Linked DNA regions of Homo sapiens: region 1 is linked to region 2. Evidence: fine-mapped expression QTL. Tissue or cell type: spinal cord. Region 2 holds a variant in brackets; the other region holds the start of a gene. All regions are shown on one strand. Distances are from middle to middle.

Evidence for each region. PIP is the estimated chance that this variant, and not a neighbour inherited with it, causes the effect.
Region 1: AADAT starts here. The variant in region 2 is fine-mapped to the expression of AADAT in spinal cord (GTEx, PIP 0.97).

Annotation. Positions count from the first base shown.
Region 1 is chr4:170,085,247-170,093,435 of GRCh38, reverse strand. AADAT (aminoadipate aminotransferase) reads left to right here and starts at 3,480. Exons shown (of 13, transcript NM_016228.4): 1 at 3,480-3,812; 2 at 4,872-5,040; 3 at 6,188-6,320. The coding sequence starts at 3,746. RefSeq lists an enhancer at 1,370-2,064 and a silencer at 3,964-4,258.
Region 2 is chr4:170,138,774-170,146,962 of GRCh38, reverse strand. No RefSeq gene overlaps it. Among named protein-coding and RNA genes, the nearest start is that of AADAT, 53 kb to the right of the region's middle. RefSeq lists an enhancer at 1,234-1,403 and silencers at 8,111-8,189, 8,031-8,189. The variant A/T (reference allele first, on the strand shown) is at 4,588.

The DNA of each region.
Region 1 (8,189 bases), 54 kb after region 2:
TCGCTCTATCCCCCAGCTCAATCCCCCACTGGAGTGCAGTGGCGTGATCTCGGCTTCAGCTGACTCCAACCTCCGCCTCCCGGGTTCGAAAAATGCTCATGCCTCAGCCTCCCGAGTGGCTGAGATTACAGGCATCTGCCACCAAACACCGCTAATTTTTGTATTTTTTAGTAGAGATGGGGTTTTGCCATGATGGTCAGGCTGGTCTCCAACTCCTGACCTCAGTTGATCCACCCACCTTGGCCTCCCAAAGTGCTGGGATTACAGGCGTGAACCACACCTCCTGGCCAAAGTTTAAATTTTCTTCTAAGTATCTAAGGAAACCTTGCTCAGTTAGAGTCCTCCCCTATCAAAAAAAAGCCTTAAGTCCCCAGGAACATCAACATATCTAGTTACAAGTTACAATTTACCTTGATCTACACCTTATTTAGATGTTTCCGGTGCTTGTTAACTTCTATAAAAATTCAGGAACTACTTTTAGAATGGACAAGCTCAAACACATAAGGATCTGTGTGCATGGATTAACTGAGAACAGGCCTTAAAAGTTGCCAAATAGCTTTAGTCAAAAACATTTGGAGGCTGAGGCCTTAAGGTTTGCTTAAATGCATGTTACTAACAACAGCCAATGTTCATAGCGTTTTTACAACGTGCAGACCACTGCACTGATTAGTTTAACACAGATTATCTCATTTATTCCTGTCAACATGCCTGCGAGAAAACCAATACAGAGAAAGGTTAATTAACTTGTCCAAAGACACCCAGCTATTAAGCCATCAAATGGGATTTCAACTACTTGAAGTCTCTGAACGCAGAAGCATTTTGCCTCGTGGGTTTCTAACAGGTTTACTAGATACTGTGCCTGGAATTGGTGGGGTTTTGGTCTCACTGACATCAAGAACGAAGCCGCAGACACTCGCGGTGTGTTAACAGTTCTTAAAGTCAGTGTGTCCAGAGTTTGTTCCTTCTGAGGTTCGGATGTGTTGGGAGTTTCTTCCTTCTGGTGGGTTCGTGGTCTCACTGGCTGCTGGCGTGAAGCTGCAGACTTTGGCGGTGAGTGTTACAGCTCTTAAGACAGCTCGGCTGGATTTGTTTACTCCTCCCTGTGGGTGCGTGGTCTCCACGGCCTCAGGAGAGAAACTGCACACCTTCGCGGTGAGTGTTACAACTCATAAAAGCAATGTGGACCCAAAGAGTCAGCAGCAGCAAGATTTATTGCAAACTGCGAGAAAACAAAACCACCACACGCTGCAAAAGTATCCAAGCGGGTTACCGCTGGTGGCTGAGGCAGCCTGCTTTTATTCTCTTATCTGGCCCCATCCACATCCTGCTGATTGGTCCATTTTACAGAGAGCCAATTGGCCTGTTTTTCAGAGCTGATTGGTCCATTTTGACAGGGTGCTGATTGGTGCGTTTACAATCCCTGAGCTACACACAAAAGTTCTCCAAGTCCCCACTAGATTAGTTAGATACAGAGTGCTAATTGGTGTATTTACAAACCCTGAGCTAGATACAGAGTGTTGATTGGTGCATTTACAAACCATGAGTTAGATACAGAGTGCTGATTGGTGTATTCACAATCCCTTAGCTAGACATAAAGATTCTCCAAGTCCCCATCAGATTAGCTAGATACAGAGTGCCCATTGGTGCATCCACAAACCCTGAGCTAGACACAGGGTGCTGATTGGTGTGTTCACAATCCCTTAGCTAGACATAAAGGTTCTCCAAGTCTCCTCTAGACTCAGGAGCCCAGCTGGCTTCCCCCAGTGGAGCCGGCACTGGGGCCACAGGTGGAGCTGCCTGCCAGTCCCGGGCTGTGAGCCCGCACTCCTCAGCCCTTGGGCGGTAAATGGGACCGGGTGCTGTGGAGCAGGGGGCGGCACTCGTCAGGGAGGCTCGGGCAGCGCAGGAGCCCACGGGTGGGTGGTGGGGAGGCTCAGGCATGGCTGGCTGCGGGTCCGAGTCCCACCCCGCTGGGAGGCAGCTGAGGCCTGGCGAGAATTCGAAGGTAGCGCCGGTGAGCCGGCATTGCTGGGAGACTGGGCACACCCTCCGCAGCTGCTGGCCCGGGTGCTAAGCCCCTCACTACCCGGGTCTGGCGGAGCCGGCCCGCCGCTCTGAGTGCCGGCCCGCCAAGCCCACGCCCACCCGGAACTCTAGCTGGCTCGCAAGCGCCCGCACAGCCCTGGTTCCCGCCCGTGCCTCTCCCTACACACCTCCCCGCAGGCTGAGGGAGCCGGCTCCGGCCTCCGCTATCCCAGGAAGGGGCTCCCACAGTGCAGCGGCGGGCTGAAGGGCCCCTCAAGCGCGGTCAGAGTGAGCGCTGAGGCCGAGGAGGCGCCAAGAGTGAGCGAGGGCTGCGAGGGCTGCCAGCAGGCTGTCACCTCTCAATACTTCCTTTTTGTTATTTAGCTGCTAGCACAAAGATTTTACTGGGTTATCTCAGCCTTTTGCTGCCAGGACCTAGATAAAAGCAGTGGCTCCTTGACCAACCTATTAGGTAAACTTAAAAGAGAGCCATTTGGCAGTGAGTCAATAATCATCTAGGAAGTACTCAGTAAATTTGTGCTGAATGAATGAATCTGTTCATTCATTTTAATAACCATTAAAGAATTTTTTAAAGTCAAAGAGAGGTTGTCTGAAACCCTTCCCTCATTAAGTGCTCACATTAAACCTTGTACATTCCATTTTGGTGATTCAGGAAGGAGAAATTGCAGAAAAGTTGAGGGAGGTGGGGAGTAAGAAGGGTTATTTTGTAAGAAAAAAAAAGGCAAGGTGCTAGACCCAAAAAGATCCGGATATTCACTTCCAACATAATTCTTATTTAACGAAAGGTCAGAAATTCAATGTGAGGGTAGACACTAAAATTGAAGAGACTCAGAGTGATTTTTCAAAAATTTTTGTCAGAACTCCATCGTCACTCCAAAATGCTGAGATCTTCGAGAAAGTGATGTTGAAATTCGTCTTGGTCGCCGGGATGCTTCCCAGGAGAGTGCCCAGAGTTTCACTAACGAAAGATGGGTATTTAGCATAGCCATGGTCTGAGCGGGCAAAATGCACAGTCCCAGTGACTGAGAGGAGGCCAGCGGAGCGCGCGGGAACGAGGGTGGGGCCGCTCCCGGCTGGGCGCAGCTCGGGAGCCCCCTGCAGTGGACCCAAGTCGCCGCCAGATGGTTCCCGAGGATTAGGATCACGGGCACTTCCGGTCCCCTCGGTCAGCCCCTGGGCTAGCCTCTGGGCCGGCGCCTAGGCCGGCCAACGCGGACGCCGGGTTGCGGTGATTCCCAGCGGCGAGGTCAAGAGTCATTGGCCTGGGGCTGCAAGCGCCTCGCGCCTGGGCTACCCCGCGCCCTGCGCTCTGAGGGCGATGATCCGGGACGGGGAGGCGCGCGCCGCGGGCGGCCATAGGCCACGGCGCGGGGCGGGAGGGGGCGCGGCGAGGCCCGCGGCGGGGCAAAACCGGCCTGGGCCCTGGCGGCCGCAGGAGCGCGTGCGGCGTGGACTTTGCCGGGCTCGCCACACAGCCCCAGACCCGTTTAGGACCGGGAGACCGAACGCAGCGTCCAGCCGGGGAGTTTCGGCGGCGTTCTCCGGGCACCGCGCGCGGGAAGCCAGACGCAGCGGGGGGACACATCTCGCGGTGGCGTTGCCAGAGTGAGGAGTTAGCAGGCAGGACTTGACGAGGCTCTTTGGTTTTTCTAGTCCTCAACCACTGAAGAAGAAGCTTGATGCTTGGCTGTCAGAAGACATGAATTACGCACGGTTCATCACGGCAGCGAGCGCAGCCAGAAACCCTTCTCCCATCCGGACCATGAGTGAGAAACGGGGTGACCATCTCTCCTTTGGGGTGGGGCATTCCTCGCACAGCCTCTAAGGAGGGTTCCCTAGCAAGCCACCGCTTGGTTGCATCCATGCGTACCCCTGTGCACGCTCGCGGTGAGCCAGGCTCTGCGTGCAGAAATGAAATAGACACAGCCTTTGTTCTCAAAGAACTCGGGCTGAAACGGAAGGCGGGTATTTCTGCTGGAGCAGAGTAGGAGCAACAGTAGAGAGAGGCGCAGACTGCTGTGGGGCACGGCCTTGGAAGGGAGGGGGCGTGCTATCAAGAAAGGCTCTTCCTGGGAAGCTGAGAAGGGGCATGCACAGCGTGCAGATGGGTGTACAGTGGAGAGGGCCAGGTAAATGGGAGAGGGGTGGGCCATGAAGCTCACAGACAGGTCGGGGCTAAGTGGAGGAGGGCTTCTGCTATTGTGGCCCTTTGCTGTCTTTCTGATCCCTCTGCCTTCTCTTTGGTCACCTTCATTCTTTAGTCCCTCCACAAGTGAGGTGCCTAGAAAAAGTTATTCTGTATGTTTATTTTAGACTAGCTTTTGTCTTAGTCCATTCAGGCTGCTATAACAAAATACCACAAACTGGGTAATTTATGAACAATAGAATTATTTCTCACAGTTCTGGAAGCTAGGAAGTCTAAGATCAAAGTGCCAGCAGCTTCTGTGTCACCATGGTGAGAGCCCTTCCTTATAGACAGAGCCATCTTGCTGCATCCTCACGTGGTAGAAGGGAGAACCTATGTCCTCACGTGGCAGAAGGGCCAAGGGCATTCCCTCAGCCCTCTTTTATAAGTGCACCAATCCCATTCAGGAGGGTGGATCCCTCCTGACCTAATCACCTCTAGAGACCCCACCTGTTAAAACTATCACATTAGTATTAACTTCCAAGTATGAATCTGGGGGAGCACCAACATTTAGACCATAGCACACTCTATCACTAGAAATCGTTAAACTTTATAGTTTTATTGACTATAATGCATGCTTAACTATCCGCTTATAACAATCTTCAATGAAATTGTTTCTTCTCTTCCATGTGTATTGTAGCTGACATATTGAGCAGAGGACCAAAATCGATGATCTCCTTGGCTGGTGGCTTACCAAATCCAAACATGTTTCCTTTTAAGACTGCCGTAATCACTGTAGAAAATGGAAAGACCATCCAATTTGGAGAAGAGATGATGAAGAGAGCACTTCAGTATTCTCCGAGTGCTGGGTAAGTATCAATACTTAACATAATTTTATTGGCTTATTTTCATAAGAAATATTCTAAGGCCCATTGATAAAGAATATTAAAGAAATATTCTAAGGTCCATTCATAAATATTCTAAAGCCATTGACCCATTTGGTCATTCAATGACCAAATACTCAGTCATTGAATACTAACCAAATGAGTATTCAATGGTTAGGAAGGTCTGGGGAAAGGTTTTCAAAGGATAATTAAGAACAGAAAGGATATTGAATGTTTAACACTCCTCAGTGATTGCTTCTCAATCGCAAATGACCAAGAAGGCTTCTAGAAGGAAATACCATTAGAGCTGAGTCCAAAAAAATGAGAAGATGTCCAGGTGAAACAAACATATCAGGAGAAATGAAGAAACGGAAGATCCAGGAAGCTTCAACTTTTTAAAGTTTAAGCATCCTGGATCTTCCGTTTCTTCATTCTATAGTCTAAACAAGCAGTCATGCAAATACATTGAATATAGTCATTCATTTCTATAGTCTAAACAAGCAGCCATTCAAATACATTGCCCTCATAGGTTCAAATGTCTTTAATTTCTTAAAGGCAAGCTGAAACATATACCTTGACTTTCTTAGCTGGTCTTCTTCAAGTGATAAAGGATAATTTATAGAGAATCTATAAATTATACTTTATTAAAACCTGCTTTGTTCTGTGATTGAAAAGTGTATTGAAATGTTATTCATGTATATATGTGTTAGTTATGTAATATGTTAAATATACATAGGCTTATTCAAACATTCCATGATACAAACAACTTATTGAGTCTGAACTTCTAGGTAGCCATAGAACTCTTCCTAGAGAGAACAAAGAATCGATTATGCAACGCATGCGCTAAAGACTTCAGGTTTGGAATAAGAAAGATGTAGATTCAAATCTCAGCTCATTTATTACGTAATTGACTTTCTGAGAATTTCTGGCTGAATGACTTACAGGAATTTCCTAATCTCTAAGTCTACTGCCTATCTTTTAAATAGGAATATTCATACTGGCAAAAAGCATTTGAGGGTTTTTTAATTGAGTGTACAAAGTGCTTGATAAAGCTGTCATTTATTATTTCCTGTCTACTACTGTTACTATGATTTTTACTACTATGAATTTAAATATACATTTTTTGCTTTAGAATTCCAGAGCTTTTGTCCTGGCTAAAACAGTTACAAATAAAATTGCATAATCCTCCTACCATCCATTACCCACCCAGTCAAGGACAAATGGATCTATGTGTCACATCTGGCAGCCAACAAGGTCTTTGTAAGGTAAGACTGAAAGGAAAACTCAGCCAAAATGTAGAATTGGAAGCATTCATTTCTATAGTCCTCTCGCACTTAACCACAGAGAATTATATTTTATGGATTACTGGTAGTCTTTCTTGTCTTCACCTAGAATTATAAACAGGGAACTAAAAGACAAGTCATAGGATGGGGGTGGGAGCAGTTGTGGCCGGGGATGGGCAAGGGTGGGTAGGGGGTGTTGACTGTAAGCAAAAGCCAGGTGGAAATATTGTAGGTTGATCTATCAATATTTCCCCCTAGTTTTCCTCATTGTGAACACAAGGACTTTGAAAAATTACCTGCTCTTAACATCATTCACTAGCCTAATCTTTCTTAAATATTAAATACAGAGCATGTGGTCAATTACCCAGACCTATTAACCATTAAAGCAGGATGCCCACTAAGGGAGTACTCAACTCCTACCAAAAGCTTAGTGAACACTGCTTAATTTCATCTGGCTCAAAAATTCAAGTTACGTTTGATTTCCGCCTATAGTTAGGAAATTTCAATACAATTTTTAAATTTTTTAGAGGGCATGCTTTCATATTCCTGAGATACACATATTTATATTCTTTTACATATCTGTCTGTAGAATCTCTCCTTGCCACTGCTTGTATCTTGTCCCCCTCTTGGGTGTATTTCTCTAGATCTATTTATATGTCTGTATTTCTGACTTCTTATATGGATTGGTTCTCTCTCCCTCTCCCCCTGGCATTAGTTATTCCATCTTCTTCCCTTCTGGGTTCCGGGAACTCCACAGATGTAAACACCACTGGTTAGTTGCCACAATAAAGAGACCACATCTGTGGTCCTCAGTTTGATCTGTTATTTTCTTTTCTTTCTTTTTTTTTTTTTGAGACAGGGTCTCACCCTGTCACCCAGACTGGAGTGCGGTGGCGCAATCACGGCTCCCTGCAGTCTCGACCTCCCTGGGCTCCAACAATTCTTCCACCTTAGCCTCCCAGGTAGCTGGGACTGCGGGTGCACACCAATATGCCTAGCTAATTTTTATATTCCTTTGCCATGTTGGACAGGCTGGTCTTGAGCTCATGGGCTCAAGCAGTCTGTCCACCTTGGCCTCCCAAAGTGCTGGTATATTTTCTCCTTTGTTTTCCATGAATAATAAGATTCTCTATATTCATTCTCAGATCTAAATTAATCTATGACTCCCATTTATCTTTATCTTAAACCAGAGTAGTTTTCTTTTTCATGGAAATATGAAAACTGTAATCTGGTTTGCTTTAATGAATTTTAATTAAATTATTGTTACAGAATAATGGGTTACAGTAGTAAAAACATTTTTTAAAGTTTTTAAAAATTAAAAAAACTTACCCTTTTTGTATTTAATTAGGAAAAGTAAAAGAATTAGCTAGTGTTTGAGTCTTTGCTTGAAGAGAAACATTTGTGATTGTATAGAATGATATAAGAGTATTTTTTAATGAAATAAATTCTTTCCTCAAGAAAGGATACTATGGACTTTTTCTTCCAGAAAGTTGCTCAAGACAGTTTCTTCTTTATCCATCACAACACCAGTTACACAAAAAAGGAAGATAGCATAGATTGCTAAATACGTCAATAACTTACTACTTACAGACATGCTTATTATAGGGGCACTAATATGTATCTGGTTTAATATTTCTTCCACTTTGTTCTCCAGGAGTCATGTTATTTTAGACTCCTGTGTTTCTCTCTCATCTTTTAAACAGTGCTCCCAGATGATAAACAGCCTTCCCTTCTAATTTAGGATATTTGAAATTTGTATGTCCCCTAACTGATATGAAAAATATATTTACAGTTGACCCTTGAACAACGCAGGGGTTTAAGGGCAATGACTCCATGCAGTTGAAAATCTGC
Region 2 (8,189 bases):
ACTTCTCAGGAACTGCCGTCCATTGGTGCACAATACGACCTATGCACACTTTGGAGAGTGAAGCTTTAATTTGCCTAATGGCTGCTGTCCACCCAAACTCTTTTATGTATTTGTATCAAATATAGCACAAATATGTATTTATTCTGCCAAAAGGCTTCAGGTTGAATAGTCTTATTTTGTTGTTGACATTTTCAAATCCTATCTTGAAGCCTTTCTACAAAAAAGGAAAGAGATAGCAAAAAACAAGTTTTAATGCCTAGTTATGGCTAGTCTTTTAAATAAAAATGAAAATTCGAAACTCTAAAATAAACATCCTTCTTAGTCTCTTTATATGAGCTATAGGGAAAAAAAAGAAAGAAATATATCTGAATCTGTAAATGAGTCAGAAATGCTCAGAAATATGTTTCATTTCATAATGCCTAGCATTTTTAGAAATCAAATTAGTGAACACCTGTGCCATGGAAGATTTATATATTAGAGTTCATGCTGCAACTACAGTTTCCCTACAATATCAATTTCAAATGACAACCTGTGGTTTTGTGCCACAGCATTTGTCTCAGCATTTGTCAAAAGTCATTTCATTTCCTATGATTCATTTCATTTATATTCTGGTGTATTAACTGGATACTTTATTGATCCTTGCTCCATCTAATTGTGGCTTTCACAACACAGACAAAAATTTGATTTGAAAGATAAGTATTATAATCTACTCACCGGTAACAGTGATGACATTAACAAAATTATGTTTAGGTAGGTTGTAGTATTGAGGTGAGTTAAAAAGAGTTCTGATTTCAGAATAAAAATGTAGTCTTTTTCCATATATTCCCATCTTCTTATTTATGTGCAAATATATAATTAAGAGATGATATAAATGCTCCACAAATCAGAACATGTCATCACATTTTTACTTTCCTGATTAATAGTTTAAGCACTATTTGCCACATTAGCAGAAAATACAGTATTCATTTATACAATAAATATTCATTGAGTCACTACTATGTGTCGGTCATTGTTCTATGCGCGGGACACATCAATAAACAAAATGAGCAGGAATTTCTACTTCCAGTTAGCTTACATTCTCCTAGATCTTTCTTTAGAGGCAAACTTATCCTTACATTACCCAAGAACGTAATAGCTTTCTCAGCCCAAATATGAGAATGCAGTCCAACTTCTATATCCAAGCAAAAAGAAACTTTACTCTTCTAACAGTGTTACTAATGCCACTGCTTCTTGCTGGCACATGGGAGCTAATACCCCTAGTCCCCTTTCAAGAGATGATGCTGATTCTGATGCTGGTTTTGGTGCTGGTCATCGGGGCTGGTATTCATTCTGTTCCCACAGAGGAACCAAGTAGACCTTAAAGAGAGGATAACCCAACTCTTTCTGAATTAGACCAAGACAGAACAGGCCTTTCTATCTCCCTTAGTCACCCATCCTTAGCCTGTCCGAAGGGGCAAGCCCAGGAGCAGTGTGCTTAGTTTCCTCCCTTTGTAGACCCTAAGCCACTGTCACTTTTTCCTTCTAAGGAATCAACTTCCTCAAAGATCAAGCAGGTATTCCTTTCCATCTGGGAAACACAGAGTCTGATTACATCTCTCTTCTTACATAATGGAAGTATTCTCTTCACCCTCCAGAGGGCATTACACTGTTCATTCATCCATCCATTCATCCATTCACACACACCTACTCTGTGTCAAATGCTACTCTCAGCTCCAGCTGCATCCAGGAAGACCCTTTGTCAGGAAACTGCCTTCATATCCACAAAGGACAACAAGTTCTGATAGTTCTCTCCCTAGAATGAAGGGGAGGAAAACACCTCATAGGACCTTTAGCTGGGCATCCATCCTATTACATATGTGAGTGGATTATAAACAATAAAAAACTGATTAATATTTTAAAATATCCAGGTGATAATAAGCACTATAACAATGGAAATTATTATCTATTTCATTATCAAAACAATCCAGGCAGGTGCAGTGGCTCACGCCTGTAATCCCAGCACTTTGGGAGGCTTAGGTGGGTGGATCACCTCAGGTCAGGAGTTCAAGACCAGCCTGGCCAACATGGTGAAACCCAGTCTCTACTAAAAAAAAAAAAAATACAAAAATTACCTGGGCATGGTGGCGGATGCCTGTAATCCCAGCTACTTGGGAGGCTGAGGCAGGAGAATCGCTTGAACCCAGGAGGCAGAGGTTGCAGTGAGCCGAGATCATGCCATTGCACTCCAGCCTGGGTGACAAAAGCGAAATTCTGCCTCAAAAAAAAAAAATCCATGAGTAAGTGTGAACTTTAAGAATTATTTTAGCAAGAAAATATACCTGAATTCTCAAATAAGCCACCTTGTAGCTGTTGGTTTTATTTTATATTTTCCAAAACCCTGTGTAAACTACCCTCTACCAACATGAAAAAACAACCAAACAACAAAACAATCTAACCAGCCATGGATACTACTCAACCATAAAAAGGAATGAAATAATGGCATTTGCAGCAACCTGGAAGGAATTGGAGACCATTGCTTTAAGTGAAGTAACTCAGGGATGGAAAACCAAACATCATAAGTTGTCACTCATAAGTAGGAGCTAAGCTGTGAGGATGCAAAGACATAAGAATGACACAATGGACTTTGGAGACTGCGGGGGGAATGCTGGGTGGAGATGAGGAATAAAAGACTACAAATTAGGTACAGTGTATACTGCTCGGGTGATGGGGGCACCAAAATCTCAGAAATCACCACAAAAGAACTTATTCATGTAACCAAACACTACCTGTTCCCAAAAACACCTATGGAAATAAAACATAAAAACAAAACTCATCAGGTATTCATTTCTTAAGATTTTCCACTTAGGACAAATTATTGACTCAGAGCGTTAGAAGAGTCTTTAGCCGGATGAGTTCATGTCCTTTGTAGGGACATGGATGAGGCTGGAACCACCATTCTGAGCAAACTATCGCAAGCACAGAAAACCAAACACCGCATGTTCTCACTCATAGGTGGGAATTGAACAATGAGAACACTTGGACACAGGGTGGGGAACATCACCCACTGGGCCTGTCGTGGGGTGGGGGGAGGGGGAGGGCTAGCATTGGGAGATATACCTAATGTAAATGATGAGTTAATGGGTGCAGCACACCAACATGGCAGATGTATACATATGTAACAAACCTGCACGTTGTGCACATGTACCCTGGAACTTAAAGTATAATACAAAAAATAAAAATAATAATAATAAAAAAGTCCTTAGCCTTAGTAAGATCCACGCTTAGCCTCTGAATCCCCTTGGCCACATTTAAATGGCTATTGGCCTATACTCAGTACCTCCAAGTTCAGGCCACTCTCTTCCCCTTGAGTCACCCTCGCCCTAATTCACTTTTAATAGCTCTGACAGTAACAAGCATTTCACATGGTACTGTACCATCTGTCTCCTGTAGCTTCAAGCTACTGGTACTAAACAATGTATTTTTGACTTATATAATTCTTCTTTTCAATGACAAGCACTGAAATATGTGAAAAGTTTTGAATCTCCATTTTTTTCTCTTGCAACTATCCTCAAATGATATTGTTTCCAGTCCATAAATAAAGTCACTATTCTGAACATACCTTGGTTTGTCCATGTCTCTCTTAAAGAGTAATGCCAATACTCTTGTTATCCAGAATTTACACATCTAAGAATTTTCTTTAGGGAAATGTTCAGGAATATAAGCAAATGTTTATCTGTAATAATGTGCATCATAGCATTACTTCTAATATTTAAGAATAATAGTGTAGTATACCTATATGATAAATTTTAAAAGTGTTTGAATAGACAACAGAATGTCACTTAACTGAGAAACTGAGATATGTTGTCAAGTGGGGATAAAAGATGACAAAACAAAATGTGATCATATGTACATATGTATTTATGTGTGTGTGCATATATCTGAAAGAAGACATAACAAAATGTTAATGATTCTATCCGATCAGCGGGGTTATAGATTATTTTTAATTGATGTATTTTTCTGTGCTTTCTAGATTTTCTACAGTGATAATATATTACTTTGTAATAAAAATAATCAATGTTATTTTTGAAAGAAAAGCATATTGCTAAAACCTGAAAGCAGTTCCCAGGTGTGGCCTGATCAACTCACAAGAGGAGGATTACACCCACTCACTCACTCAAATTCACTTCCACTAATATTGTTTAACATATTGATGTTTCTGCTGCTACATTACAGTTGATTCATTTGAGAATATTCTTCTTTATAGCCCCTAAGACATTTTCACAAACATTACTGCTAAATCTGTAGCATCTTGTTCTTAAAGATTAGATGGGGTTTTTTGTCTTGTTAGTTGTAATTTATAAGTTTTATCCTTAAAATAATGGATCCCATTACTGCCACCTCAATCTCCACCAGTCCCACTGAACCTCTACCATGCCCAACCTGGAAATGCTCAGGACCACTCTCAGAAACAGGTGAACAGGTGGGTGTGGATCTGAGTGAGGTGATCACCACCAAAGTTCAACAATCAGGACAACAGAGTAGAGACTGGTGAGCATGTAAGAGGCAACACTGCCTATATCACACAGAAGGGCTGACAAGAAATTAAGG[A/T]TAACTCAGCGACCTCAATGGTCAACACTTGTGAAATTACATCATCATCCAGAGTGATGTTCCCATATGCCTAACGAGATAGAAGGAACATGAGCTGTGCTCTAATTCTGCAAAAATTGTAACCAATATGCTTTCAGTTGTTGGGGTGGATCACATATTTACGATGGAGGTGCTTCTCAGATACATGAGAATCTCTCAAGTATCAAATCAAGTAAAAAATTACTCTTGGATACAGTTTTTGTTTTGTTTTGTTTTGTTTTGTTTTGAGACAGAGTCTCACTCTGTCATCCAGGCTGGAGTGCATTGGTGAAATCTCGGTTCACTGCAACTTTCACCTCCCAGGTTCAAGTGATTCTCTGTCTCAGCCTCCCAAGTAGCTGGGATTACAGGTGCTCGCCACCACGCCCGGCTAATTTTTTTGTATTTTTAGTAGAGACAGGGTTTCACCATGTTGACCAGGCTGCTCTTGAACTCCCGACCTCAGGTGATCCACCTGCCTCGGCCTTCCAAAGTGCTGGGATTACAGGCATGAGTCACTGCACCCGGCTGCAGAAAACCTCTTTTAAACATTCCTATGGATAACCCTAAACACTGCAGTGGATTCACGAAAAATATTATAGAATGAAAGAACTGTATCATTACTTCCCCTCATGCAACCGGTTCCAAAACTGTTACCTAATGCAGGTAAACAAATTCAATGCTGAATTCACTTTGAGTGATAAAGGGAGAAAGAAAGTCAATGGATGGATAGGGTGGTTTTGTTTGGTGATCTTAAAAGTGTGTGACTATCCTCATGAATAAAAAGGCTGACAAATGTAGCCAATATGTCACACTGTAGACAGGCTATTCTTAGCTGGAATCATGAAAGTTTAAGATATTCTTGCTCATGAAGACTTCTCTGTCTAGTTATTTTCAGAATAAATAAGGCTGCCTTAAGCCTGTCAATGTCAAAAATACAGTTTCCAAAGAGACAAAATGAAAGTTCAGGATTCAGGCTGTTGCTATTTTAATGATCTTGATAAGCTGATCTAGAACTCACAGAGAGAGATTTATGCCTTACCTATTTAACCATGTCTCACTGTAATACCAAATATTGTGTTTTGAACTATTATATTCTGTTACGTTTTTGCTTGTTTTTGTTTTGTCATACTTCTAATGTTAAGATTCAACAATGCTGTTAAACAGAAAAACCTTAGACCAAATTTAAATTTAACTGACTTTATTTGAGCAGAGGAAAGCAAAGCAAAGTAAAAACAGAATGAAAATGATTCACAAATCAGGCAGTCCTCTGAACCAGGGCAGGTTCAGAGAACTCCAACTAATAACATGATCTGACAGCATTTATAGGAAACAGAAGTACGGTGTACAGAAAACTGAATTGGATACAGCTTCATTGGTTAACTGGCTACGGAGCGTCCTGCAGTAACTAAAGCTCAGCTCCTGGAGTTCAACTTTATGTTGGTTTGGTCTGTCAGGCCTAGTGCAGGAACCTAGTTTATTTTGGTTAACAATACTAAAGTTATATATATATATATATATATATTATATATATAGTGCTTAATGTTTATCTCTATCACACTTCTTTTAGAGTTTGGTTCATCTTTCTATCATGTTAGGACCGCTTTCATCTGATTCTGTCATTTAGGGTTTTTTTTCATGAACCCTCTTAACTCTGTGTCATCCACATGTTTGGTGAGTGTGTCCTTCATATCTTTATCCAAATCCCTGATGAACGTATTGAACAGAATACGGGCCACAACAAGGCTCTGATATTTACCAGCAGAAAACATATCAGATTAGCAATGTGTGGTTCAATGTTCAGCCAGAAACTCATCAAGCTAATAGTATTACGATCCAACCCATAATTCTTCCTCTGTGTGATATCATATAACATCAACAAAAGACTTTACAGATGATATTGGACTTTTTCAAGAAATTAAGAAAGTAATCTTTTTGTTTCACACATAAACCAATGAACTCAGAAGTCAGAAATGTATTAAAACAGAGTTGAGCCCTACCTTAAGAGTAAAGGGACTTACAAAACCTTATTTGCATTTACTGTCTCAAGTAGGGAAATACTTACCCCAATGTATTCCCCTCCTGACCTGACACTTTATCATGGACCCATAGTATCCATTCTGCCCCATAAACAGGAATCAGACATAAGGAATCAAGTCTTATTCATCTCTATTTAGTCTACAATGCCTAGCATAGAATTTCATACACGATACTGTGGAGTTTACTTCATGACTTTCTTAGGTTAGGATGGTCCTAGCAAAACAGAAACTTCTGCCACACTGCTCATCCCATTAGAAGTCCAGTGGTCACTCGAGTTTACTATTTCATATGGTATTGCAGAAAGGAAACCTAGACATAGGTTTGCCAAAATATGTGTCATGCTCAAGGCATGGCGCAGAACACAGATTCCCCCATAACCAGATGATGAGGTAATTGGCTGATAATATCTCTGGGTGTAGGCAGGGATGTTGCTACTACTAGGCAGTCAATATCTTAGTCATTGATACTAGCTGTTATTGACTTTGAATGAAGCACGATCCTCCATTTAATAAAAATAATGACTATTTAATGAGGACAGCTGGCCCAGCTAGGTCATCCCTGAGCCACAGGTTTGGACACAAAGAATACACCCATTCCAGGTCATCAACCACGCTCAGACCTCTCAGGGGCATGAATACAGGCTCTCCCTAGCCAAGTCCATCCTTTTGCTGACTTCGTCCCCTCTTTAGTAGTCTCTTCCTGCTCTGCCCAAACTCTCATTATCCCTTCCATGCAAAAGACCTCATTCTCATTCTGCTTCTTTTCTCACAATAGAACTCAATGTGGCCTCCTTCCCCTGACAAACATTAGAAGCAACACAGAATGTATTTATCCTTTTCTAAGAGAGAGATCTTATATTTTTAGAAAAATTATCCTATCTATACACTCCAGTGGATAAACGATATCCTTTATATGTGTTAGGGAATTTTCATATTCCCTAAATATTCTTCTGAATACATCAGGAACAAATACTTGAGTGTTTACATCAAAACATAAGATGATTCTATGCTGCACACAAAACTAAATAATGTTTGTTCAGTGAATCAATGACTTTATATAATACTTTATATAAGATGTCATACTTTGTATAAGATCGTTACACAAGGTACTTTAGATATTAAAAGATACTGAAAGATATTTTATAGACATTATACATTTATATTTTATGTAAGATATTTATATCATCCTTTATATAAGATATTTTGGATCTGGTGCACTAAGAGGCCTATGGATGGGAGTGTAGATATGGTATACTGCCGAACACTTCTCAGAAAAGAAGAGCAAAAATGTTGAGACCTAGAAAGCAGTGAAATGGAATTAAGGAGTTCTGTTCTTCAATAAGCCAGAAATTTGAGGCAGGTGAATGAGGTTCAGGCAGAGAGCATAGGTTAGCAGGAGATTGGCACAAACATCCGAAAACAATGTATAAGTGTGGGGCAAAGATTCGGAAGAACTGTAAATCAAGTGTTGGGTCTAAGCCTAAAATACCGTCTCTGAATCCTACGGCTGAAAACAAGTGCGCGAGCGACACCTAGTGTTCAAGT